3 linked regions of the Homo sapiens genome follow. The protein of the gene in region 1 binds, or shares a complex with, the protein of each later gene. Each region holds a gene or a part of one and is shown on either strand. Other genes may lie near its edges.

Evidence for each region. Proteins that work in one complex are often made in the same cells at the same time.
Region 2: TUBGCP2 (region 1) and TUBG2 share a complex: the UniProt entries of both Homo sapiens proteins name them as parts of the gamma-tubulin ring complex.
Region 3: the proteins of TUBGCP2 (region 1) and TUBGCP3 are in contact, whole or in part, in a cryo-EM structure (PDB 8Q62), measured with the Homo sapiens proteins. Residues at the interface, in NP_006650.1 of Homo sapiens: Gln172, His173, Pro175, Ile176, Phe177, Pro178, Trp180, Arg184, Ala186, Leu187, Ile188, Gly189, Phe191, Leu222, Tyr223, Val226, Val228, Asp229, Gly230, Arg231, Glu278, Ser281, Phe283, Gln287, His290, Ala291, Ala294, Arg297, Val300, Lys301; in NP_006313.1 of Homo sapiens: Glu272, Asn273, Cys274, Ser286, Leu287, Asp289, Thr290, Val292, Arg293, Glu296, Trp299, Ser361, Thr363, Leu364, Arg365, Leu368, Val369, Tyr372, Lys375, Ile376, Lys379, Ala382, Ala383, Asp386, His387, Ala402, Tyr403, Lys405, Thr406, Gly407.

Annotation. Positions count from the first base shown.
Region 1 is NC_000010.11:133,277,291-133,285,682, reverse strand, and holds the end of TUBGCP2 (gamma-tubulin complex component 2), read left to right. Parts: intron 1-54; coding exon 55-227; intron 228-469; coding exon 470-598; intron 599-1,680; coding exon 1,681-1,801; intron 1,802-2,461; coding exon 2,462-2,605; intron 2,606-3,340; coding exon 3,341-3,460; intron 3,461-4,246; coding exon 4,247-4,410; intron 4,411-5,781; coding exon 5,782-5,917; 3' UTR 5,918-7,048; downstream 7,049-8,392. UniProt on the Homo sapiens protein: Component of the gamma-tubulin ring complex (gTuRC) which mediates microtubule nucleation.
Region 2 is NC_000017.11:42,654,515-42,663,110, reverse strand, and holds the start of TUBG2 (tubulin gamma-2 chain), read right to left. Parts: upstream 3,828-8,596; 5' UTR 3,608-3,827; coding exon 3,559-3,607; intron 3,278-3,558; coding exon 3,165-3,277; intron 2,963-3,164; coding exon 2,795-2,962; intron 2,473-2,794; coding exon 2,404-2,472; intron 1,911-2,403; coding exon of another isoform or gene 1,884-1,910; intron 139-1,883; coding exon 59-138; intron 1-58. UniProt on the Homo sapiens protein: Tubulin is the major constituent of microtubules, protein filaments consisting of alpha- and beta-tubulin heterodimers. Gamma-tubulin is a key component of the gamma-tubulin ring complex (gTuRC) which mediates microtubule nucleation.
Region 3 is NC_000013.11:112,577,327-112,585,153, forward strand, and holds part of TUBGCP3 (gamma-tubulin complex component 3), read right to left. Parts: intron 6,836-7,827; exon of another isoform or gene 6,713-6,835; intron 1-6,712. UniProt on the Homo sapiens protein: Component of the gamma-tubulin ring complex (gTuRC) which mediates microtubule nucleation.

The DNA.
Region 1 (8,392 bases):
CTTCGGGTCTTTTCCTTAAAACTGGATGCTTTGTTTCATTTCCTTCCCTCCAAGATCGACCTGATGCCCCATGACCTCATCACTCAGCTCTTGCGCGTCCTGGCCATCGAGACCAAGCAGGAGAAGGCGATGGCGCACGCCGACCCCACGGAGCTGGCGCTGAGCGGCCTGGAGGCCTTCTCTTTCGACTACATCGTCAAGTGGCCCCTTTCGCTCATCATCAACAGGTGCGGGTCGGCTGCTCGGGCACCTGCCAGATCTTCACTCAGGTTTGGCAGAAGCGAGAACTGTGCCACGCGGTGGCCACCTCGTCCCACAGAGGACCCAAGGCGGCTCTCCCCGGCCTTCAGTGTCCGAGAGATTCACGGGCTGTCCGGGGGCCACGGTGCGGACTGTGGAGTACAGACGCCGTGTCCACGACGCCGCCGGTCACGGAGGCCCACCTGAGGTGCCGCCACGTCTCTTGCAGGAAAGCCCTCACTCGCTACCAGATGCTCTTCAGGCACATGTTCTACTGCAAGCACGTGGAGCGGCAGCTCTGCAGCGTCTGGATCAGCAACAAAACCGCCAAGCAGCACTCGCTGCACTCCGCCCAGTGGTGCGTTCTTCCTCTGCCCCCGCATGCCCTCCTGAAGCAGCGCTCGCTGCACTCTGCCCAGTGGTGCAGCGCCCCCCTTGTGCCCTCCTGGTAGACAGCTTTCTAGGCTTCTGGAAGTGTCATCTGGAAGCGCACGTTGGTGGCTTTAGATCCATAATGCTTCATTGCTTCATTTTCCTGTCTTGGGGCTGCACGGCGCTGCCGTCCACCCCACAGGGGATGCTGGCTCTGTCCCTCAGCCCTCTCTGGAGCCTTGTGGTGACTGCACGGGCATGGAGACTGCCCAGGTCGGTGTGCAGGACACTAGCTCCTCCCGAGAGCGGACAGCCACATCTTGCTGGGACCAGAGGTGCTTTGCAGCCGGTCTGTGCCTCTAGGGTGTTGAAAAAAGGGGTCGATGGCAGAGCTTCATAAGAATTTGTCCAGTCGGGTGCAGTGGCTCATGCCTGTAATCTCAGCACTTTGGGAAGCTGAGGAGGGAGGATTGTTTGAGCCCACAAGTTCGAGACCCGCCTGGACAATGTAACAAGAGCTCATCTCTTAAAAAAAAAGAAAATTATTTTAATTAGCCGGGAATGCCTGTAGTTCCAGCAACTCAGGAGGCTGAGGTGGGAGGGTTGCTTGAGTCCAGGAGGTCAAGGCTGCAGTGAGCCAAGATCGTGCCACTGCACTGCAGTCTGAGCGACAGCAAGACCCTGTCTCTCGAAGAAAAAAAGAAATTAGAAGAAAAAGAACTCATCTTGATGATGAAGCACAAATATGCATCTGTTGTGTGGCACTTTCCTGGCGTGGGCTCCGAGGGGTCCGTCCACCAAGGAGCCCGCGTCCCAGTCTCCACCGTCCAGCTGGCTGGGGGTGTCCCTGCAGGGCACAGGTTGGTAGACGGTGACAGCTTGTGCTGGGCAGACGCAGGAGCAGCGGCCGTGAGTGTCTGGTGTGCTGGGAGGGGCGCTTGCTCTGCAGAGGAAATAGCCACGTCCAGAGAACGTCCTCCATGGCTGTCCTCCGTCCTCCGTGTCACTTGGTGGGCGCTGTCGGGGCCGCGTCCTCCATGGCTGTCCTCCGTCCTCCGTGTCACTCAGGTTTGCTGGGGCTTTCACTCTGCGGCAGCGAATGCTCAACTTCGTCCAGAATATTCAATACTACATGATGTTTGAAGTGATGGAACCGACCTGGCACATCCTGGAGAAAAACCTGAAATCCGTGAGTTTTAGCTCCACAGATAATAACGTTTGAAAGCCACTTTCCTTTCACAGGGAGACAGGAAGTGCAGGAGAGGCAGGGCGAGGGGAGAGGCAGGGAGTGCAGGAGAGGCAGGGAATGCAGGGAGACGCAGGGAGTGCAGGAGAGGCAGGGAGTGCGGGAGAGGCAGGGCGTGCGGGAGAGGCAGGGAATGCGGGAGAGGCAGGGAGTGCAGGGAGACACGGAGTGCAGGAGAGGCAGGGCAAGGGGAGAGGAAGGGATCCCCCAGGGCGGGGCTGCACCCACACTGCTGGCCACACACGGGACCCCTTGCTGCCTGCCGTCCTAGGGGGACTCTGAGCCGTCTTTGCCCCGAGGTTGTCTCTCCCACATTGCGCATCTGAGGCTGAGGGGCCTGAAGGCAGAATCTGTTGGTACCAAATTCCAGAAGCTGCCGCAGCCTCCCTTCCTGTCTTCTGCCTTAAGAAATGAAACCCCTTCGGGGTGTGCCCATCATTTTTTTAGTGGTGTTTGGAAGTTTTCCCCTAAAAGCCCAAGGCCCATTTAAGAGGTAGAAGTGCGTAAACAGGAATGCACAAAGCCAGAACTGAGCACGTGCGCATGCAGGGCCCGTCTGTCAGCCACGTCTTTCTGAGAAGGGGCTTGGCCTGTTCCCCGCAGGCCTCCAACATTGACGACGTCCTTGGCCACCACACAGGCTTCCTGGACACCTGCCTGAAGGACTGCATGCTCACCAACCCCGAGCTGCTGAAGGTCTTCTCCAAGCTCATGTCTGTGTGCGTCATGTTCACCAACTGCATGCAGGTGCGTGGGTGTGGGTAGCACCATCGGGTGGGCAGGCGCGGGTGGGCAGACCATGTCCCGACCGTGGCCGCACGCAGCCTGCTCACGTTTTCCTGCCCTTGTGTTCGTGGAGGAGCCGCTGGGATCTGAGTGTTTCCAGAACTCCTGGTCTTCCTGGCCGGGTGATTCCCTCCTGGAGCCCCTGCCCTGGCAGCGTGGGCAGGGCTGTGTTCCTCCCGAACCATCCCTCAGCCTCTGTGGTGCTGGTCTCTGTCCGGGGCCTTTGCTTATGGCCCTTGCATGCTCTTTTCCTCAGCACTTGAGCTATTTGATTCCGTTAAGGACCTGCAGGCACTAGTCACAAGCAGCTGCCGACTGGCGATGGTGCAGAACCTGCGTGTCTAGTGGCAGAAGCAGGGGTCTGAGAATGAGGCTCTCCAGGCAGTGCCATGGGGAGGGTCCGGAGGAGGGCGAGTGGGGAGGTGGAGGAGGGCATGGCCACTTCAGGGTCCCAAATAGGGAAACACCAAAATAACTGTTCTCAGGAAAATCAGCTGGTCACCGTGGAAGGTAGACCTGGGAATTCTGTCGGCACAGATAAGTCATTTCCCCTGCAGCCTCAGAGATGCTTGTGTACCCCCAGCCGCAGGCTACAACAGAGGTGCGGAGGGTGACGTGCCTGCAGGACTTGTTTTTTCTGCAAAGCATTGTGGTTGTAACTAACAGAAGCATTTCCTTGCGACTCTCCCCCCCTAGAAATTTACACAGAGCATGAAATTAGATGGCGAGCTGGGCGGGCAGACGCTGGAGCACAGCACCGTCCTGGGGCTGCCCGCAGGGGCCGAGGAGCGGGCCCGGAAGGAGCTCGCCAGGAAGGTGCGTGGCCTCCAGGTTTGGCCAGAGAGAGACGCTTCCTCCCGGCTGGGCGGCAGCCTGGGCATCCTGACGCAGGGAGAACAAACCTCCCCCCTTTTACTTCCATCTCCCCTCAGATTGAAGAAAAGACTTAAAATTAGCTTCCAAGCACAAGCACAAGAGCCTCTCACAATCTTCTCAGCTCTCTGGTCCCCACTTCAGCCAGTCGGGCTCGAGGGAACCCCCACAGATCTTCAGAGCGAGCGCTGTGCAGGGCGCCTGGGCGAGGGCAGGGGCCACACCCGCTGTCCCTGCTGAGCTCGGTCCTGAGTTAGAACCGTCAGGCTCTCAGCAGGCACGGACAGGCTGCATGTCCTCGGAGGCATGGCCCTGCGGCGCCGGCTCCGGGGTGGCATGGTGGGGTGGGCAGTCCCGTGTTCACACGCTGGAGCTGGAGCTGGCAGAGAGGAGTTGGGTTTGGAAGCGTGGGGGCCGGAGGTGAGGGACACTGAGAGGCGCCCCGACCTCCTTGCTGAGAAAGCTGCTGGGAAAGCTCGTTCATCTCACCCCAAAGGAGAGTGACCACCTCATCCCACGAGGCCTGGAGTGTTTCTCTGAGTGCTGGGTTCTCAGGAATGTTTTTTGATGTCTTTTTTACCTTGAATCTCCTGAAAACATCATGGAACCCATGTTTTCTATTTAAGAAAAGGGGAAGGGAAAGGACACCGGCCTGCTGGGAACAGTGTGGAGCCAAGAAGGCCCACGGTGGGGGTGGGCATGGCTCACGCACCCCGGCTTTCTTTCCAGCACCTGGCTGAGCACGCAGACACTGTGCAGCTGGTGTCCGGCTTCGAGGCCACCATCAACAAGTTTGACAAGAACTTCTCAGCCCACCTGCTGGACCTCCTGGCCCGGCTGAGCATCTATAGCACCAGTGACTGTGAGCACGGCATGGCCAGCGTCATCTCCAGGTGGGTGGGCGCCACCCCGGCTCAGCCCTTCCTCAGCTCAGTCCAGCGCCTGCCCCTGCCCAGCACCGCCCTGGCTCAGCCCTTCCTCAGCTCAGTCCAGCACCTGCCCCTGCCCAACACCGCCCTGGCCCAGTGCTGTCCCTGCTCAGCCGTCCCCCAGCTCAGCCCAGCACCTGCCCCTGCCCAGCACTGCCCTGGCCCAGTGCTGCCCCGGCTCAGCCTTCCCCCAGCTCAGCCCAGCACCTGCCCCTGCCCAGCACCGCCCTGGCTCAGCCCTTCCTCAGCTCAGTCCAGCACCTGCCCCTGCCCAACACCGCCCTGGCCCAGTGCTGTCCCGGCTCAGCCTTCCCCCAGCTCAGCCCAGCGCCTGCCCCTGCCCAGCACCGCCCTGGCCCAGTGCTGCCCCGGCTCAGCCTTCCCCCAGCTCAGCCCAGCGCCTGCCCCGGCTCAGCCCTTCCTCAGCTCAGCCCAGCATCTGCCCCAGCCCAGCGCCACCCCAGCTCAGCACCTGTCCCTGCATCCAGGCCCCATCTCCCCTGCACCCTCCCCTGGTCCACCTGGTGTAGCCTCCTTCAGAAGGTGGGGCAGGTCTGTGTCCTGGTGCTAGTGCTGGTCATATGCCACTCCCTGAAGTCAGGCTAGCCCAGCTCTCCCTGGGGTGTGACATTCTGTGCAACTGGGCTGCCCCATTGGCACCCTGCGGCTGTGTGTGTCCTGTGGGGCTGATCAGGCCTGGGTCAGCTTCCCTCATGCTGCACTAACACCTAGCCTGGGGGAAAGGGCCAGGTGGCCAAACTGCCAGCCTGGAAGGGGTGGTGCCCTTGGGGGTGCTGTCCTTGGGAAGGTGCCTATTTGTGCTTTTGGACCACCCTGTGCCCTGTGCCCCCCACAAATGTTCTGATTTTCTGAGCAGGGATTTCTGAGGCCACCCTGCATTGAGAACCACTGCTTGGTTCTCCAAGCCCCTGACACCTCAGGCCCCATTGCTAGGCCCTGTTGGGGTGATGGGAGCCCCAACTTTCTGGGGCCAGGAGAGAAGAAACCTGTGTTTGTGCCTTTGAGCAGGACTGAACAGGACTGAAAACCTTCCTGTGGAAACATTAGTTAGGAGCGTGCCTCACCCTCACCCCTGCAGGGCCTCTTATGGTCTCTGTAGCTGAACACTTCCCCATGGTAGGAGCAGGGCTGCTCAGGACGGACCCGCAGAAGGAGTGTGTGCCCCAGCTCCACTGTCCTTCCTCACCCCTGCTGCCCAGCACGCACCCGCAGAAGGGGTGTGCACCCTAGCTGCACCGTCCTTCCACACCCCTGCTGCCCAGCATGCACCCGCAGAAGGGGTGTGCACCCCAGCTCCACTGTCCTTCCTCACAGGCTTGACTTCAATGGTTTCTACACGGAGCGCCTGGAGCGCCTGTCTGCAGAGAGGAGCCAGAAGGCCACCCCCCAAGTGCCTGTCCTGCGGGGGCCCCCGGCTCCTGCACCCAGGGTCGCAGTCACCGCACAGTGAGCCCTGGCTGTGACAGGAAGGAAGGGTGTGGGGTCAGCAGGGACTGGTGCAAATGGGTCCAGAATTTTCAAATCGAATGCTCTGTGTTCTGTCTTTGCAGTTTAAATATAAAGCAGGAATGATTGACTCAGCTCACTTTGTTTCTCAAGGCGCTGGGTTTCGTTTTATAGAAGCTGCCCAGGCAGGGTGGATGTCTCCCTGGATTTGCTAATCTGTTTGCTTTTTGAAATTACACTATCACCTTTTTGGGTGTTTTTGGCCTCAAAGTGGAAATACATGGTGTTTAAGCCAGGAGCAAGCAAAGATGCATGTGGGGTAAGATCCAGGCCTGGTGTCCACATCTTTCCGGGTGAGCTGGGGCCGGGCTTCCTGAGGTCTGTCGGAACCGGGACAAGCCTCTGGAAACGGTCAGGGAGTTGTGGAAACCCACCGGGCATCGGGTGTCGGGTTTGCTTTGGCCCCAGAGGCAGCCCCGTTCCTTCTCCTGAGGACTCACCCGCCTCCACGACCCTCCTCCTGCTGCTGCTCCAACTGGTCCAGGGCAGGAGGCCACAGACAGGGCCCTCAGGCACCCTGGGAGCCCACACCTCCCCCTCCGTGGGAGTGGGTCGAGGGGCAGGCTCTGCTGCTGGCTGGAAACCCCACCCCGCCCTATCCGGTACCGCCTTGTTACGTAGAACTTACTCAGCAGACTGACACCCAATCCCCCTCGGGCGATCATCTGCCCTGTCTTCCCACCTCCAGGGCTACAGTGGGCAGCACCGCCATCCCCAGTGTGACAGGGCCCTGGGAGCCTCAGGGCTGCCCGGCCAGGTTGGTCTGCTCTGGTTACATTCTGGCCAAGCTGCCCCTTCCTGCTGACCTGCATGTGTATTGTTGTCACCTTCAGCTCTCAGCACCTCGGCCCCCTTGGGCAGTGAGGAAGGGCCCTGGAGGCGAGGTTGGGAGAAAGGATAGCTAGAACAGGATCCTGCGGGGAACAAGGGTTGTGGGCAGCTCTCACCCGGGGCTGCCTCACTGAGAGCACCGCCGAGTGGGGGTGGGGGTGTCCAACTCTCCAGCCACAAACCGCTTCCTCCTTGTCTGCAGGCTGTGCAGGTCTGGCCTGTGAGTAAACACATTTATCAGCAACCCAAGCTGTCAGTCTCAGTGTTGTGCAAATGCCGGACTGGTGAGCAGAGGAGCCTGCTAGCTTTCCTGCCTGGCCCCGAGGCCCAGAAACCCCTGATCTTGTGTCCTGGGGTCTGGGAAGCCCTGGGCCTTGAGAAGTGGGGTTTGCAGGTGGTGATAGGAGGAGGGGAGGGAAGCCTCCAGGGCTGTGGGGTTCAGGCTCCCAGACCCCCCGGCACCTGCTGAAGAGGAGAGCTGTGTTCTGTGGGATTGGGTGGAACTTCCTCAGCGCGGGAGGAGCCTGTTCTGGCCCAAGCTGGTCCTGTCTTTTTAGGAATAAATCCCTGGTAGCTCAGCGTCGGCAGGGGCCTTGCTGTGCCTCTGATGTGGCCAGCGTGCCGCCTTTGCACTTTGCTGTTGAGTAACTTGCACCATGAGGTCAAGGAAGGGAAGTGTGATTGCCAGCTGGCCATTGTTCTATAATAACAGGGTCACCTGCATGAGCTCAGGCACAGGCCAGTATCCCCAGCCCTACCTGGGAGCCTCTCGGCAGCCTGGGGGACCTCGTCCTGTGCCACACAGGCAAGCGGACACACCCCCAGGCAGCAGAAGTCACCTGCGGCCCAGTGCCAGCCCTTGCTTTCTTGCTTTTCATGCCATTCACATTAGGGTAAGAATGGCTTTGAGACAAAATGTGACAGCATCACTCACGCCAGCTTAGATCCTCCGGGTTCCCTGTCCTCCCAGGATAACGTCCGAGGCCCCGGCCTCTTCTTGCCACTGCCCCTTGACCTCTGTCCTCTGCCCCTAGGCCCGTGCAGTTCCCTGACTCGCCCTGCCCTGGTGCCCTCTCTCCAGGCAGGACTCCCTCCAGCCCCTTGCTGGCCCTGCCCTGCCTCTCCCCAGGGAGGCCCTGAGGCCCCCCCCCCCCATGTGATCTGTCAGCAGCGCCCTGTGTGGTCATCTGAGCTGCCTTTCCTGCCACCACCACTGTTCCCACTCCAGGAGGGCGGCCTGGCTGTGAAAGCCCCAGGGAGGGGTCCTGGGTGGACCGTCTGGGGAGCTGTGGTGTCAGCCCAAACCTGCACCCTCGAGGCTGAGCCCACCACGGGGAATGTGGTCACCAAGGGCAAGCACGCTTGGCCGCAGGCCTGGAGACGCCGGAGCCAGGCCACGGTGGGCTGCTGCAGGCTTTGGTCCACGTCGGCCAGCGTCAGCTGCTGTCTGGGGATCTTAGGCTAGGGACGGCCCCTGCACCTGCCATCACCTGGGCTGGGACCCCCACCTAGGGCTCCCCCTCCCCACTTGGACGCCTGCGGGCCCATGCCTATCCCACTCCGGTGAGGCCTCAGCCTGGTGGAGGGG
Region 2 (8,596 bases), on another chromosome or scaffold:
AGCAATGACATTACTCAGGGAACCAGGGTTAATGCCCTCTCCCCAAACACAGGCTTGCCTGTCATTCAGTCGCTCCAGGAGGTAGGAGCCCAGGCCAGAACCCGTACCCCCAGCGATGGAGTGACACAGCACGAAGCCCTGTGTGTATACAGGAATAAACAGACTCAGTTTCTCCTGCCACACTCTCACAACACAATTCTGATACCAGATGGGTGGGGTCTTACCACACACATCAGGTAAGCAGTCAATTCTACAGTAGATGCCAGCTGGGTATCCACTAATTCACTTCAATTCTGGACTACCTACAGACTGTCCCTGACTTAGGATGGTTTAATTTAAGATGTTTTGGCTTTATGATGGGTTTATCAGGACATAATCCCATCTTAAATCAAGAAGCATCTGAATTACAATGGTTCAATTTACAATTTTTCAACTTCATGATGGGCTTATTGGGTTATAACCTGATGCATTTCTACTTACGGTATTTTCAATTTTTTTTTTTTTTGAGACGGAGTCTTGCTCTGTCACCCAAGCTGTAGTGCAATGGCCCGATCTTGGCTCACTGCAACCTCTACCTCCTAGGTTCGAGCCATTCTCCTGCCTCAGCCTCTCAAGTAGCTGGGACTACGGGCATGTACCACCACGCCTGGCTAATTTTTTTATTTTTCGTAGATACGGGGTTTCACCATGTTGGCCAGGCTGGTCTTGAACTCCTGACCTCAAGTGATCTGCCCGCCTCGGCCTGCCAAAGTGTTGGGATTACAAGCATGAGCTACCGCACCTGTCCTCAAATTTGTTTTGGTTTTAGAGACAGGATCTCACTCAGTCCCCCAGACTGCAGTGCAGTGGTGTGATCATAGCTCACTGCAGCCTTGAATTCCTGGGCTCAAGGCATCTTCCTATCTCAGCCTCCAAGTAGCTTGGACTATAGGCATGTACCACCATGCCTGGATAATGTTTGTATATTTTGCAGAGATGGGGTTTCACCATGTTGCCCAGGCTGGTTTTGAACTCCTGGGCTCGGATGATCCACCTGCTTCGGCCTCCCAAAGTGCTGGGATTACAGGCATGAGCCACTGTGCCTAGTCAATATTTTCAATTTGTGATGTGTTTACATCCTGATAAACCCATTGTAAGTTGAGGAGTATCTGTACCTGAAGATAGCATCAGATCCCACAGAGTGAAGGCTCAGTCCCACAAGACTCTCCCACTTCCAATGCCAACACAAGCTTCAGGTTGTTTTATCTGTGCCTCTGACCAACCAGCTATAAATCGAGGTTCTCAGGACTGCTCCTTGGGTTCAATTAATTTGTTAGAGTAGCTCACAGAACTCAAGGAGACACTTACTTACGTTCATCCATTTGTTATAAAGGATATTTTAAAGGATACAAATAAACAGCCAGATGAAGAGATACCGAGGGGAAGCTCTAGAAGGGTCCGGCGCATAGGAGTTGCTGCCCTGTGGCGTTGGGTTTGCACCCTCCTGGCCTGTGGATGTGTTCTTGTTCACCTTCCTGGAAGCCCCCAAACTCAGTCCTTTTGGATTTTTATGGAGGCTTCATTACACAGGCATGACCGATTAAATCATTGGCAATTGGTGCTCTACTCAATCTTCATCCCCTCTCCCTTCCCCAGAGGTGAGGGGTGGGCCTGTAAATTCCAACCCTCAGAGCACCAGGTTTGTTCCCCTGGCAACCAGCCCCCCATCCAGTGGCTATCTGGGACTTTCCAAAAATCGCCTCTTTAACATAAGCTCAGGTTTGGTTGAAAGGCACTTGTTCCTCCTTAGTACAGTGGTTAGTAAAATTAACTAATTAAAATAAAATGAAAGATTAAACTAAAAGAAACGGGCTTGTTATAAATAACAAAAGACTGTCTTTCACCTTTATCACTCTGGAGCTGTTCTGGAGCTGTTTCAGAAACCAAGGACAAAAGGTCAAATATTTTAACAAAACATACTATTATTGCTCTAGTCCCTTAGGAAATTACATGGGTTATAAGAGCTGTAAGCCAGGAACATATCGCACCCAGCATGGGGAGAGATGGAGAGGCAGTCTCCAAGGATCTGGGGGAGAGACTTCGGCTTGGTTCATTCTCCATTCCCAAAACGCCAATGTCTCAAAGCTTCCTCTTATGCATCCAGGCTGAGGCTCCTTGGGAAGGTTTGGAGCTGGAGAAGCAGCTGAATGACTCATGCCTAAGGGGCCGGTGCCATTCAGATTTATGACTTCCTTGAGAACAAAGATTATATCTTATTCACCTCAATATCCCACATCTGATGCTCCATAAACGGGTTTTGAATTGAATTGCTCCCCTCATATTACCTATCCAGGCCACCTCCTGACCTGTCCCCAGCACTCTTCGGCCTCCCTGCCCATTCCTTCCCCCACTCCATAACTTCACCTCCAAACTGTCACTTCCATCTGCTTCTCGGTCTATGATGTCAAAGATGTCTTCATGAATTTTCTCACCCTGTATAGAGATATGGAAAGGGAGGGTCAGGCCAAAGGTTCCAGAGAGCATCTTTTCTCAGCACAGCACCAAGAATTCTGTCTACCCTGGAATATTGTTGCCACCCTGAAGCAGAGCCTAGGCTGTAGCCCTCAACCCAGAAGTGCTACTATTGCAAATGATTTGCACAAAATTTGCATAAACCTCTCCCTGGCTGTCCCTCTTGTTCGGGACATCCTTTTGTCTCTTATTTTCTGTCAGTCAGGTCAAATTCCTAGTAGCTTGAGCCTGCCTTGCCTCTGGATGGGAATATCAAAGGTCTCTGGAATGGTCGCTAGGACACCTGGGAGAATCCGCTGGCCCAGTTGTTGCCAGCTCCTCCTCCATGTTCCGACAGGTAGATGTTCTCTGGGTTGTAGAGCTTGGCATAGGGGGAGTTGAGGATGGAGTGGATCACCCGGGGTTCCAAGTCCAGCAGCACGGCCCGGGGGATGTAGTGCTCATCGTCTGCCTGTCAAGGGGAGTCCAGGAGGGGGCCCAATCAGCTAGGGCGGCCCAAGTCCGAAGTCCTCCCAACTCTGGCTCCCTCCGGCCCTCCCTCCTCAAGCCAGCCGCCTGGCCCTACTGCCCAGCGGGGTTCCCAGTACCAGGCCACTCCCTTCCCTTCCGCCCCCTTGGGCCACTGCCGCCCCCGGCCAAGTCGCTGGGGGCACCTGGTAGAAAAAGACGTCCTTGCGGTCAGTGCCCTCGGTGGCGAATTCCTCCACGATGCCCTCGGGGCTGATACCATGCTCGGCGCACAGCTGTTTCCAGAACTCGAACCCAACTGGGGGAGGGGGGAGATGCCCGGGTCTGCTGGAGCCTTAAGGCCTGAGGAGCCCAGTTTTAGTCTCAGAGGCTGACACGATCAGAGGGTGGACCCAAGATGCCTGGGTTTGGTAGCTGCCCCAGCCCCGGGCTGGAGGCGCAGCTCTCGGTCTGGGTTATCCAGAGCAGCAGGGCAGGGGGTTCATGGAAGGGAAAGGGGGACTGGTGGAAGCCAGGCACTTGGGTGGGACCCGAAGGGGCAGAACCAGAGACCGGCGGGGCCGGCGCTCGCTTGCTCACTCTGGTTGCCGCACTGGCCCAGCTGCAGGGTGATGATCTCCCGGGGCATCGCTCTTCAGACGTGGGCGCGCCAGCCCCGGCCTGGCGAGAGTCACGGCTGAGACGAATGCCCGGCAGCCAGGAGCGCAGGACGTGGGGAGCGCGCGCTCTCTTCGCCTCTTGACGCGGATGCTCGGTCTGCGCGTGTGCAGCGCAGGCCTCTCCTCGGCCGGTGGGCCGGGGAGCCCAACCTGGGCATCATTTTCTCCCTCAGCAGTCGCAGCTGGAATTCCGCACAGGCGCAGAGTCAGGCCACGCCCGCTCCTGCCCACCGCTCCGCGCCTGCGCAGTGAGACTCGTTGGGGGTGGCAGGGTCGGAACCTGGATGTGTTGGGGAGGAGAGGAACGGGGGAGGGGAGGAAAGGGGAGAAGCGGCCAGGTGGATGTGCTTGTCCACGTGTAAGGAGTCATCTACCTATATTGGTAGGTGAGGACACTGTCAGCTTTGCTAGATCAAAGGGCTAGAAGCCAACTTTTCTTCGTTTAAATTTCTGTTTTTTAATGGTGTTACAATACATACACATGTATGTTACCTTTTTATTTTTTAGAAGGGTCTCGCTCTGTCGCCCAGGCTGGAGTGCAGTGGCGCGATCATAGCTCACTGTAGCCTTGAACTTCTGGCTTAAGTGATCCTCCCACTTCAGTCTCCCGAGTAGCTGGGACTACAGGCGTGTGCTACCACGCCCAGCTAATTTTTAAATTTTTAAAATGTATTTTTATAGAGATGGGGATCTCACCGTGTTGCCCAAGATGGTCTTAAACTACTGGCCTCAATCAATCCTCCTGCCTTGGCCTCCCAAAATGCTGGGATTACAGGCATGAGCCACCACTCCTGGCCTAAATTTACCATTGTAACCATTTGTAAGTACTGCATACAGTTCTGTGGCACCAAGTACACTCACATTGTTCTGTAACCACCACCACCATTCTTTTCTAGAACTTTCTTATCTTCCCAAACTGAAACTCTATCGCGATTAAACAGTAACTTCCCCTTGACTACTCTAGGCACCTGATATGAGTGGAATTATACAGTATTTGTCTTTTTGGGTCTGGCTTCTTTCACTTAACATAATATCTTCAAGATCCTTCCATTTCGTAGCATGTGTCAGAATTTCCTTCCTTTTTACAACTGAATAATATTCCATTGTATAGATGTACCACATTTTGCATAACCATTCATCCCTCCATGGACATTTGGGTTGCTTCCACCTTTTGGCTATTGTGAATGTTGCTGCTTTGAATGTGAGTGTACAAATATCTGTTCGAGTCCCTGCTTTCAATTATTTTGGATATACACCCAGAGGTAGAATTGCTGGATCATATGGTAATTGTGTTTAATGTTCTGAGGAATCGCCATACGATTTTCCATGGTAGCTGCACCATTTTAAATTCCCACCAGCAATGCACAAGGGTTCAGTTAAATAAATTTTATAGGAGGCCATTGATTTGCACTGAGCTCCTGTGCTTGGCTCAACAGACCAAACCAAAATGGAGTCACTCACGCTAAAGTTCTATGTCACTAAGCAACACTAAGTTGTTTATCAAACCTTCAGAGGAATCAGGAGAGGGAAGGAAGAGCCAAAACCCCAAACAAGCCAGTGTGAGCCGGCATGATACGGAAGTCCTTTTACAAGAAAAGTAACTTTGAAAGGACCCATCTGCTTTTTTTCCTTCTGTTTCTATTTTTCTCTACCCTTTTTTGTCCATAAAAACTAACCTGTGCTTGACTCATCTGAACACTCATTCTATTTATTTTATGGAATGAAACGTAGCCTGATCTAGAATCACAAACACTGTAAATGCCACTTAAGATTTTTTTTTTTTTTTGAGACTAAGTCTCACTCTGTTGCCCAGGTTGGAGTGCAGTGGCATGATCTCGGCTCACTACAACCTCTGCCTCTCTCAGGTTCAAGCGATTCTCCTGGCTCAGCCTCCCTAGTAGCTGAGATTACAGGTGTGCACCACCACACCCGGCTAATTTTTTTGTATTTTCAGTAGAGACAGGGGTTTTGTCATGTTGCCCGGACTGGTCTCGAACCCCTGAGCTCAGGTAATCCACCTGCCTCAGCCTCCCAAAGTGCTGGGTTACAGGCATGAGCCACCATGCTCAGCCAAGTAGCCAAGTTACAATCTTTTTTTTTTTTTTTTTTTAGATGGAGTTTCGCTCTCGTTGCCCAGGCTGGAGTGCAATGGCTCGATCTCAACTCACCGCAAGCTCCACCTCCCGGGTTCAAGCGATTCTCCTGCCTCAGCCTCCCAAGTAGCTAGGATTACAGGCATGCACCATCACGCCCAGCTAATTTTGTATTTTTAGTAGAGACGGGGTTTCTCCATGTTGGTCGACCTCATGTGATCCACCTGCCTTGGCCTCCCAAAGTGCTGTGGGATTACAGGCGTGAGCCACCACGCCCAGCCTTTTTTTTTTTTTTTTTTTTTTGAGACGTAGTCGCACTCTGTAGCCCAGGCTGGAGTGCAATGGCTTGATCTCAGCTCAGTGCAACCTCTGCCTCCCAGGTTCAAGCAATTCTCCTGCTTCAGCTTCCCAAGTACCTGGGATTATAGGCACGCTCCACCATACCCTGCTAATTTTTGTATTTTTAGTAGAGACGGGGTTTCATCATGTTGGCCAGGCTGGTCTCAAACTCCTGACCTTGTGATCCCTTCCAAATGTTGGGATTACAGGCGTAAGCCACCGCACCCAGCCTCTGAGACTTTTTATGCAGCCTTGGAATCCTGGGCTCAAGCGATCCTTCCACCTCAGCCTCCTGAGTAACTGGGACCACAGGCACATGCCACCATGCCAGCTAATTTTTTTTTTGAGACAGAGTCTCTTTCTGTTGCCCAGGCTGGAGTGCACTGGCATGATTTTGGCTCACTGCAACCTCCACTTCCCGGGTTCAAGTGATTCTCTTGCCTTGGCCTCTTGAGTAGCTGGGATTACAGGCATGAGCCACCACGCCCGGCTAACTTTTGTATTTTTAGTAGAGACAGGGTTTCACCATGTTGGCCCGGCTGGTCTTGAACTCCTGACCTCAGGTGATCCACGCGCCTCGGCCTCCCAAAGTGCTGGGATTACAGGTGTGAGCCACCATGCCCGACCTTTACAGTGACTTTTCTACATTCCACCAGGCTGGCTGTTCCCTCAGGAATAATCTCCTGTGTGTCTGAATCATATATACCCAACTGTGACTAGAATGGTGAACTGTGAGTCCTGCATCAACCCAAACATGCTCTTCCACTCTGCATACTGCCCCTAAATTAGTCACTCTCAGAATCCATTTTAGTAAATGTTCCTCAGGAAGCTGATGATACTGATCTATGAAATGGAACAATTCCTCCACACTCTACTGTCTGGTTTCGATAATTACTTGGTTCCTTCACATTGACTACCTTCTTGGTAACCACAGGTCTCAGAGGTACTTTCTGTTGTCCCTGCATAATTTCCTCCTTTGTGGGTGACTCCGAGGCTAGTGGCCTGAGCTCAGCCAGACCCACATCTGTGCTTGGTCCAGCCTCAATTCCTAACCCAGCACCCTCTTTTACTTTCATTTTAGCCATTATAGATAACAATAATCAGGGGGCTGAATATTTCACATTTTTCTTATTAGTTTGCATTTCCTTATGCATTCAATGAACCAATTCCTGGGAGTTGGATCCATCTCTAAATTCCACTAGTAAGTTTTACCTTTAGTAACTGATCTCAACAGAGTTGTGGCTTCACACCATGGTGACCACGTGGTCACCCAGGAATTGACGACCTCTTCCTCCACCCTTTTATCCTTTTTCTTCCCAAACCACATGTTTATGTGAGTCAGGGCCATTCCTGCAAATCCCACTTCACTGACACCAATTGTTTAGAGAAAACTGTAACCATTTCCTCTACTCTCACACCACAGCAATCATCCACACAGATTTCTGTGACCATACACATGGGGCTTTTGTTCCCCACCCAGCAGTGGACACCAGCTGGGTGTCCTTTAATTCAGTTCTAACACCATCTACCCAGAGACAGTGTCAGACCTCATAGGTTGAGGGCTTAGTCCCCAAGACTGCCTCCCTGCCCCGCACCAGTCCCAAGTCTGGGCCTCCAGAACTTCTGACCAGCAGGCTTTAAGTTGGGGTTCTCATGACCCCCTCTTTGGGTCCAATTGATTTGTGGGAGCAGCTCACAGAACTCGGGGAAACACTGACAATTACTGGTTTATTAGAAACCATATTGCAGGCCTAGTGTGGTGGCTCATGCCTATAATCCAAGCACTTTGGGAGGCCAAGGCAAGTGCATCGCTTGAGGTCAGGACTTCGAGACCAGCCTGGCCAACATGGTGAAACCGTCTCTACTAAAAAAAAAAAAATTAGCCAGGTGTGGTTGGTGGGTGTCTGTAATCCCAGCTACAAGGGAGGCTAAGGCAATGAGAATCGCTTGAACCCTAGAGGTGGAGGTTGCAGTGGGCCGAGATGGCGCCACTGCACTCCAGCCTGGGTGAAAGAGCAAGATTCCATTTGAAAAAAAAAAAAAAAAAGCCAGCATATCGCAAAGGATACAGATGAAGAGACACGGAGGGTAAGGTATGAGGGCAGGGGTGTGGAGCTTCCATGCCCTCTCTGGGTGCTCCACCCTCCAGGAACCTCCAGGTGTTCAGGCATCTGGAAGCTCACTGAACCCTGTCCTCTTGGGTTTTCATGGAAGCTTTATGGGAGGGTCTTAAGGCCCACAGTCAGAAAGGCCCAGGAAGGTTAGAGTGAAAGGAGTGCAGGAGAAGGTCAGATACTGCCCCTGAGGGCTAACACACTCAATATTATAACAAAAGACTAACAAGGACTATGAGAGTCATGAGCCAGGAGCTGTGGACGAAAACCAATATGTATCATAACACCATACCATCTTTAAAAAAAAAAATAGAGATGGGAGTCTCGCTGTGTTGCCCAGGCTCATCTCGGACTCCTGGGCTTCCTGGGCACAGTGGAACAGCCTGTAATCCCAGCACTTTGGGAGGCCGAG
Region 3 (7,827 bases), on another chromosome or scaffold:
TCCATATGATGTGATGAAAATGTCACTTCACCCTGGGGGTCTTCCTCCCAAAAATATGTAGCCCCAGTCTAGTCATGATAAAAATATCAGACTCAGTTGAGACAGTCTACTAATAACCTTTAATCCTCAAAATTCTCAAGATCATGAAAAAAAAAGTCCGAGAAATTGTCAATGTCAAGAGAAGCCCAAAGAGACAAGACAAATGAATGTAACATTCCTAGAGGGAGCCTAGAGACAGCAAAAGGCCACCGAGTGCTAAGTGAGGAAATCTAAATAACTATGGAGCTTGATTAATACTAGTGTATCATTATTAATTAATTAATTCTAACAAGTGTACCACGGTTATGTAAGACAAAATGGTACTGGGCTTACAGGAACTCTATATTTGCAATTTTTCTGTAAGTCTATCATCATTCTAAAATAAAACATTTTTTTAAAATATATTAATGCCAAGACTCACTTTTCACAAATTCTGATTTTATCAGTCTGGAGTGGGGAGCCATGGCATCAATATTTTTTAAAGCTCCGTTTTCAAACTTTTAGTCTTCAAGATAAGAAAGCAACTAAAATGTGAGGGGGGAAAAAGCTTTCTTTGGTAAACTCAAAAATGAATTTCAACCTATATCACATGCCACATATGAAAATTTGTTGGGAAAAGCTGAGTGTTGGGAGAAGCTGAGGCAGGGCTTGCATGTCTGACTAACGTAAAAGAGTCTTGGAACATGTCCGGGGTCCAGGGTCTAAAATCCCTTGAGGCCTTTGGAACGCCAATCTGTGCTAAAGGGCGGAAGGCTACCCTGACGCACCATAATCTCAGCCCAGGGCATAAAACCCCTCGTGGCTTGGATGGAATCCAGGACTCGTGGCTCTGGAATGTGTCTAGACTTGCTGGCTCCTTGCTCCTTGCTCTCCCAGGATCGATTGTATCTTGAGTTAAAAGAACCTGCTCTCGGCCGGGCGCGGTGGCTCACGCCTGTAATCCCAGCACTTTGGGAGGCCGAGGCGGGCGGATCACGAGGTCAGGAGATCGAGACCATCCTGGCTAACACGGTGAAACCCCGTCTCTACTAAAAATACAAAAAATTAGCCGGGCGTGGTGGTGGGCGCCTGTAATCCCAGCTACTCGGGAGGCTGAGGCAGGAGAATGGCATGAACCCAAGAGGCGGAGCTTGCAGTGAGCCGGGATAGCGCCACTGCAGTCCAGCTTGGGCGAAAGAGTGAGACTCCGTCTCAAAAAAAAAAAAAAAAAAAAAAAAAAAAGAACCTGCTCTCCATTATCTCAAGTAGCAGAGCAGATGCTAAATCATCACACCTGTAAATCATGTGCTTAATGCAACGCGACCTTTCGACCCCCACATTCTCACCACCTGTTTCTTTGTTTGATCACCAATAAATAGTCTGGGCTTCCAGAGCTCAGGGCCTTCACAGCCTCCATACTTAGCGATGGCCCCCTGGACCCACTTTCGCTCTCAAACTGTCTTTTCTCATTCCTTCGACTCCACCAGACTTCGTCACCCCCACGACCTGGTGTTGGGTCTGATCACCCCAGCAAAAATTAAATAGAAGAGTAAAACATAAGCCCCTCTTAGAAATAAAACAAAACAAAGAAATCTTTGCAACTTTGAGTTTGGCAGAGTTCCTACATGACACCAAAATGATGACCCATTTTTTTAGAAATTCATACATTGGCCTTCATCAAGATTAAAAACTTTTGCTCTGCAAAAGACACTGTTAAGAGAATGAAAATACTGAGAAAAAATATGTGCAAAACACAAAGACATAAGCAAAAGTTTTGAACAGATAATTCACCAAGAAGACATATGAATGGCAAACACACACACACACACAAAGATGTTCAACATCACTAGGAAAATTAAAATTAAAACCACACTGAGATATCACAACACACTTGCTAGAATAGCTAAGATTAAAAACCACTAACACTGCTGAGTGCAGGTGGGGCCACGGCATCCCTGGAGCTCTCCCACACTGCTGAGTGACAGTGGGGCCACGGCATCCCTGGAGCTCTCCCACACTGCTGAATGCCCGCGGGGCCACGGCATCCCTGGGGCTCTCGCACACTGCTGAGTGCCAGCGGGGCCACGGCATCCCTGCAGCTCTCCCACACTGCTGAGTGCCCGCGGGGCCACGGCATCCCCGGAGCTCTCGCACACTGCTGAGTGTCAGGGGGCCACGGCATCCCTGGAGCTCTCCCACACTGCTGAGTGCCGGGGGGCCACGGCATCCCTGGAGCTCTCCCACACTGCTGTGTGCGGGTGGAGCCATGGCATCCCTGGAGCTCTCCCACACTGCTGAGTGGGGGTGGAGCCATGGCATCCCTGGAGCTCTCCCACACTGCTGTGTGCGGGTGGAGCCATGGCATCCCTGGAGCTCTCCCACACTGCTGGTGCAGCGGCAAAGCAGCCACAGCCATACTGGAAAAGAGTCTGGCAACTTCTGAAAACAATGAGCATGCACCTGCCCTGAGGCCCAACAACCCCACTTGCAGGTGTTTATTCTAGAAAACTAACTTAAGTTCACATAAAAAACCTGTCCATGAATGTTCATAGCAGCATTATCCATAACTGCCAAAAACGGAAGCACTCCAAATGTCCCTCAGTGGTAAAATGGATAAACTGGTTCATCATACAATGGAACACTACTCTGCAATGAAAAGGTGAACTATTGATATGGCACTGTAAATGCATCTCAAACGCGTTATACTAAGTGAAAGAAACAAGTCTCAAAACTTTTGACTGAACACTGTATGACTGCATTTACGTGAAATTCTAGAAGCGGAGACATACACAGACACAGGATGGTGGCGGCCAGCACAAAGGCAAAATGGTAGCACAGAGGAAATCACTGTGAACCTAAACACTGAGAATTTTTTTAAATGGGCTAAATAGCAGAATGGAGATACTAAAGGACAATTTAAATGCAAGCTAGAAAATCAAACACAACAAAAGAACAGTTAGAAATTATGAAGAAAAAATAGTAAAATTTTTCTATCATTAAAAAAAAGTCAGCCCTGCGTGGTGGCTCACACCTGTAATTGCAACACTTTCAGGGGCTGAGGTGGATCACTTGAGCCCAGGAGTTTGCGACCAGCCTGGACAATACAGCAAGATCCTTCTCAAAAAAAAAATTCTAAGTCTGTCACTAGCTTTGAAAAAAATAATAAATTTTAAAAAAAGGAAAAGTCCTCAGATTGAAGGATCATCAAGTGTTAATCCAGGTAAATTTTTAAGTTCCACACCTAGACACATTATTGCAAAATTTCAGAACATGCAGGATTTTTTAAAATTCTAAAAGCTACCAGACACATCTTCAAAGGAGTAAGAAATGGATTAACATCAGACTTCTCATCAATAATGAAAGAATACCTTCAAAGTGGGCAGAGGAAAAACACTTCAGACCAGAATATCTATATCTGACTGATGATCCAAGAGTTCAGGAATAGAAGCGTAAGAGAAATAAAGACATTTTCAGACTATTAAGTAATTATTTAGATCAGCAAATCCTGTTGATTCTATTTCTAAAAGCATATCCCAAATATGATCACTCCACAGCTACCATCCCATTACAGGAAGTCTCCTGAGGAGCTGCTCACTTGCTTCCACCTTTGCCCCCTTAGAGTGAATTATCCACCCAGCAGTCAAAGTGATCCTCTTAAAATATAAATATTATCATCACTCTGCTCACACACCCATCACACTCACAACAGAACCCAACCTCCTGGCCCCAGCCCAGGGAGCCGGCCCCTTGCTCCCCACATTGCACTCCTGCTATTCCTGGAACACACCAAGCTCACCTCCAGCTCGGCACCCAGCTCTCTCTTCTCCACATCCTCTAAGGACTCACACCCCCCCATCTTTCTGTCCCTATTCTAGCTAAAGCAGACACAAGCGCACTGTGTCAGCAAGGATCCAGTGAATGCCTGCATAGTGGGGAAAGGAACAAAATGAAATCTAAAATGTTTTGTGGGGTCACAGGGTCGGGGTAGTTTTTTTCTCCTTATATTTTTCCACTTTCTGAATTTTTACACTGCGTATATATTAATTTTACAAATATTAAAAGTATCATTGAAAAGTTTCCTTTAAAAGTTGTGTCACTATTTAAGAATTTTTTTTTTCCCAGACAAGGTCTCACTCTGTCGCCCAGGCTGGAGTGCAGTGGTAAGATCTCGGCTCCCTGCAACCTCTGCCTCCTGGGCTCAAGTGATTCCCCCACCTCAGCCTCCCAAGTAGCTGGGACTACAGGTATGTGTCACCACATCCAGCTAATTTTTATATTTTCTGTACAGACAGGGTCTTACCATGTTGCCCAGGCTGGTCTCGAACTCCTGGGATCAAGCAATCCTCCCGCCTTGGCCTCCCAAAGTGCTGGGATTACAGGTGTGAGCCACCGTACCCAGCCAGTAAAAATTATTTTTAGGTTACCATTTTCACACTCAAGTACATCACATAAATATCCCCAATCCAAATGTTTTATATACTTTTCAACTTTCTCATACCAAAAAGTTAGGAACTCTTCAATGCCAGAAACACTCTCCTCTTCACCTCCTCACTTTCTCTGCACCTCAGATGGATGTCATCATTTCACCCCCACTTACCTCTTCAGCCACACCTGAGTCTCCCTGTCCTCTTACCAACCAAATTTCCAGTTTATCCTTCTTGCTGATTATAAAATATTTTTAAAAATCCAACTGTTACCTCTTAAACCAAATCTACTTAATCTGTGCTTCAGAGGGAAAAGCACAGAATCCAGACTACTAAAGAAATTAGACATAGCAATCATTCCTTGTTTAGTGAACCTGCAATCAAAGAATAAGCTGGGAAAAAATCAAGCAATGTCCACTACACGCTTCTGGTTTAAATACTCCCAAAATACTGTTCAGTGTTTAAAGTATAACTAAACTCAATCAGTAATTCAATGAATAACTCCTAAATACTTACTACAGGCCAAACACGTCAGGCCCTAACAATATGATGTACAGTGGTTAATGAGACAGACGTAGAACATAACAAATGTGGCACATAAGTACCCAAGGCAGACTGTGATAAGAGCGTCAAAGAAAATGAGGGCACTATGACAGCTCATGACCAGGAGGACCTCGTGAAGTAGATGCTGAGGGAAGGCCTTGCAGGAAACACCGTTAGCCTGGCAGCCAAGGCTGCCACGTGAGGAGCCCAGGGACCAGAGAGGGGAACCCACAGGGAAGGGCGGCACTGGACACTGCTGCTGCAGGGAGGCCGTGCCACAGGGCTCTAAATGCCACTCAGTCAGTCACTCCATCGAGAGCCCCAGGTGACAAGGTCCAGATGTAGATCTCTGATGATTCTGCTTAATGCAAGAGTGAAAAATAGAGTACTCCATTTTTTTGGCCACAAATCACCTAAGGAGAGGTCTAGTTCTCCCACCTCTAATCTGCTCTGGGTGTGTGAGGGGTGGGCAGTTCTCAGGTTCCTGGAAGGGGAGTGAACACTCCTCTGATGATCCTCTGAAATTATTTCAATGAATGCAAGGGCACACTGCCTGACCAGAGAGCAGTGCTGCTGAGTTGTACACTCTAAACACAAGAGCGGATAGAGGTGAGAAGCCATCCCACAAGCTGGGCCATGACTTATTGTCTCTATCGAGCACACAGAGAAATTCGCCATCAAATTCAACACTTAAAAGCCGGGGTGAATTAATTCAAAATATCAAGCTGTAGAATCAGAACTTGGGTTCCAACCTTGGCCCCGCAATTTACTAGCTCGATGATAGTGAGCAAACTACTTAATCTCTCAAAGTCTCAGTTTTCTCATCTAGAAAATGAGGTTCACCATAATTCTACCACAGTATAAGCACAACATCCAGCATATTTTAAGTTTTATATAAATGTTAGCTATTCGTATTGTTATTAACCTGAAAATATTAAATACATACTATATCTGCTACAGCCATTAGAATCACAACTCAAAAAATGCACCCAATTTTTAACCTTGAGCAAGATAATTTGGTCTTCATCTTGAAGACTACAAATAGAGAACAAATTAAGCCTTCAACAGATTCGATGAGATTGGTTTTCTAGAAAGGACCCTCTGACTGAAGAGGAGAAGAGGAACTAGAGGAGATACAAAGCCAAGGCAAGACCCTCAGCTGGAATTGCGTTCAGTCCCAAATGTGAAGGCTCCAGAGACACCTGGATGTGGGCCCAAGAGCTTTTAAACAAAAAAGTTGCCCTTTGTATCCCCAAAAGATTCTATATACACTCAGGTTAAAGATGACAACTGAACTTCAAGATGCACAAAAATAAATTCGACTCAAGTGAATACAGAAACTCCACAGTTGTGTGTTTCTCAAGATTCAAAAAACAACTGCGGAAAAGTTGAACTGTTTGGGGAGACCCAAGTTTCTGCCTTCCTGTTTCTTGTCGACAGCGTGGACTATATGTTCCACACTTCTGCTTTTCTGAAGGATGGGGGAGGGGTCAGGAGGGCGTTGGGAGTAAGCCACAGTGCTTAGTAGAGGAACAGAGCACATACACTAGCCACCCTTGACTCCAGATGCAAGTCAGAGTAACTTATCACGCATTTTAATGTTTCGGATGCCAAGCTCCAACAGACACCTACAGGATCAGAAGCCCTAGAGATGAAGCCCACAATATTAATTCTGAGTAAGTCCCACATTTAGAGAGTTTAAAATGAAAAGGCATGAAGTTAGATACCATAAAAAGTCCTGTTCTCAACCACTGGCCACCAGCTCCCCTTCCCACAGGCAATCAACGTTATCAGGTTCTTGTGAAATCACAGGCGATTCCAATGCATGGCTCTAGTTGAAAAGCAATGCTCTAAAACAACAAAAACATTACTCTAGATGCGTGGTTCTCAAACTCTTTGGTCTCAGGGCTTCTTTACACTATTACGATTGAGAACTCCAAAAAGCTTTTGTTTATGTAGGTTATATCTATCCACAGTTACCATATTAGAAATTTAAGCCAAAACAATTTTTAAATTTTAACTTATTGAAAAATAGTAAATCCATCAAGTACAACTTGAAACAAAGCCTGAAACTCTGAAGTTTTAATACACATCTAATGTATATCTTAATATACATGTAATACACATTGATCTTCCCAAGAATGTAATTATATAACCAAAGGAAGATCACATGGTATTTGGAACTTCATCAAAAGCTCTTTACCATTTTGGAAAATCATGAAACCAATAGCAACACCACTTGTGGTACTGAATCACCAAAACAATAATCCTTTATCTTCTGATAGTGGCTTGTAGGACACTCATAGAGGTCTTGCATATTATGGCAATCATCTTCGAATATGCTGTGTACTGTAGTCATACCTGAACATTTATGATGAAATACTTATCTAATATAAATTCCTCTTTATGTATTCTTTACCTCATAGTTAGAAAAAGGATTACAAAGTAGCTATGAAAAGAAGTGTTACCTCTGACAGATTTGAACATTAACATCAAGCACACTGTTTCCAATGATAAGAATAATTACGCAAAGACATAATAAATAAATGTGCTCCCAGGAGGGGCAGGGATATGGAGACAGGATTTGACTATGACTGGCTGGCAGTATGTGTTTCAAGCAAATTCACAGATGTTATAAGTTGGAAAAGGTGGTAAATCATGGTCATGCTAACTTTGTAAAACTGTCAAGCACCATTATATGTAGGTGCTTTGCTTCTGAAGGTCCCTTGAAGTCAACTGTATAATTTTTTAAAAGATACCTTATAAAAATGTGATTCATATGAAATTCTCATTAAAAGTAACAAGTACCTATTATGCCTTGATTTCATAGTACTAAAAAAAA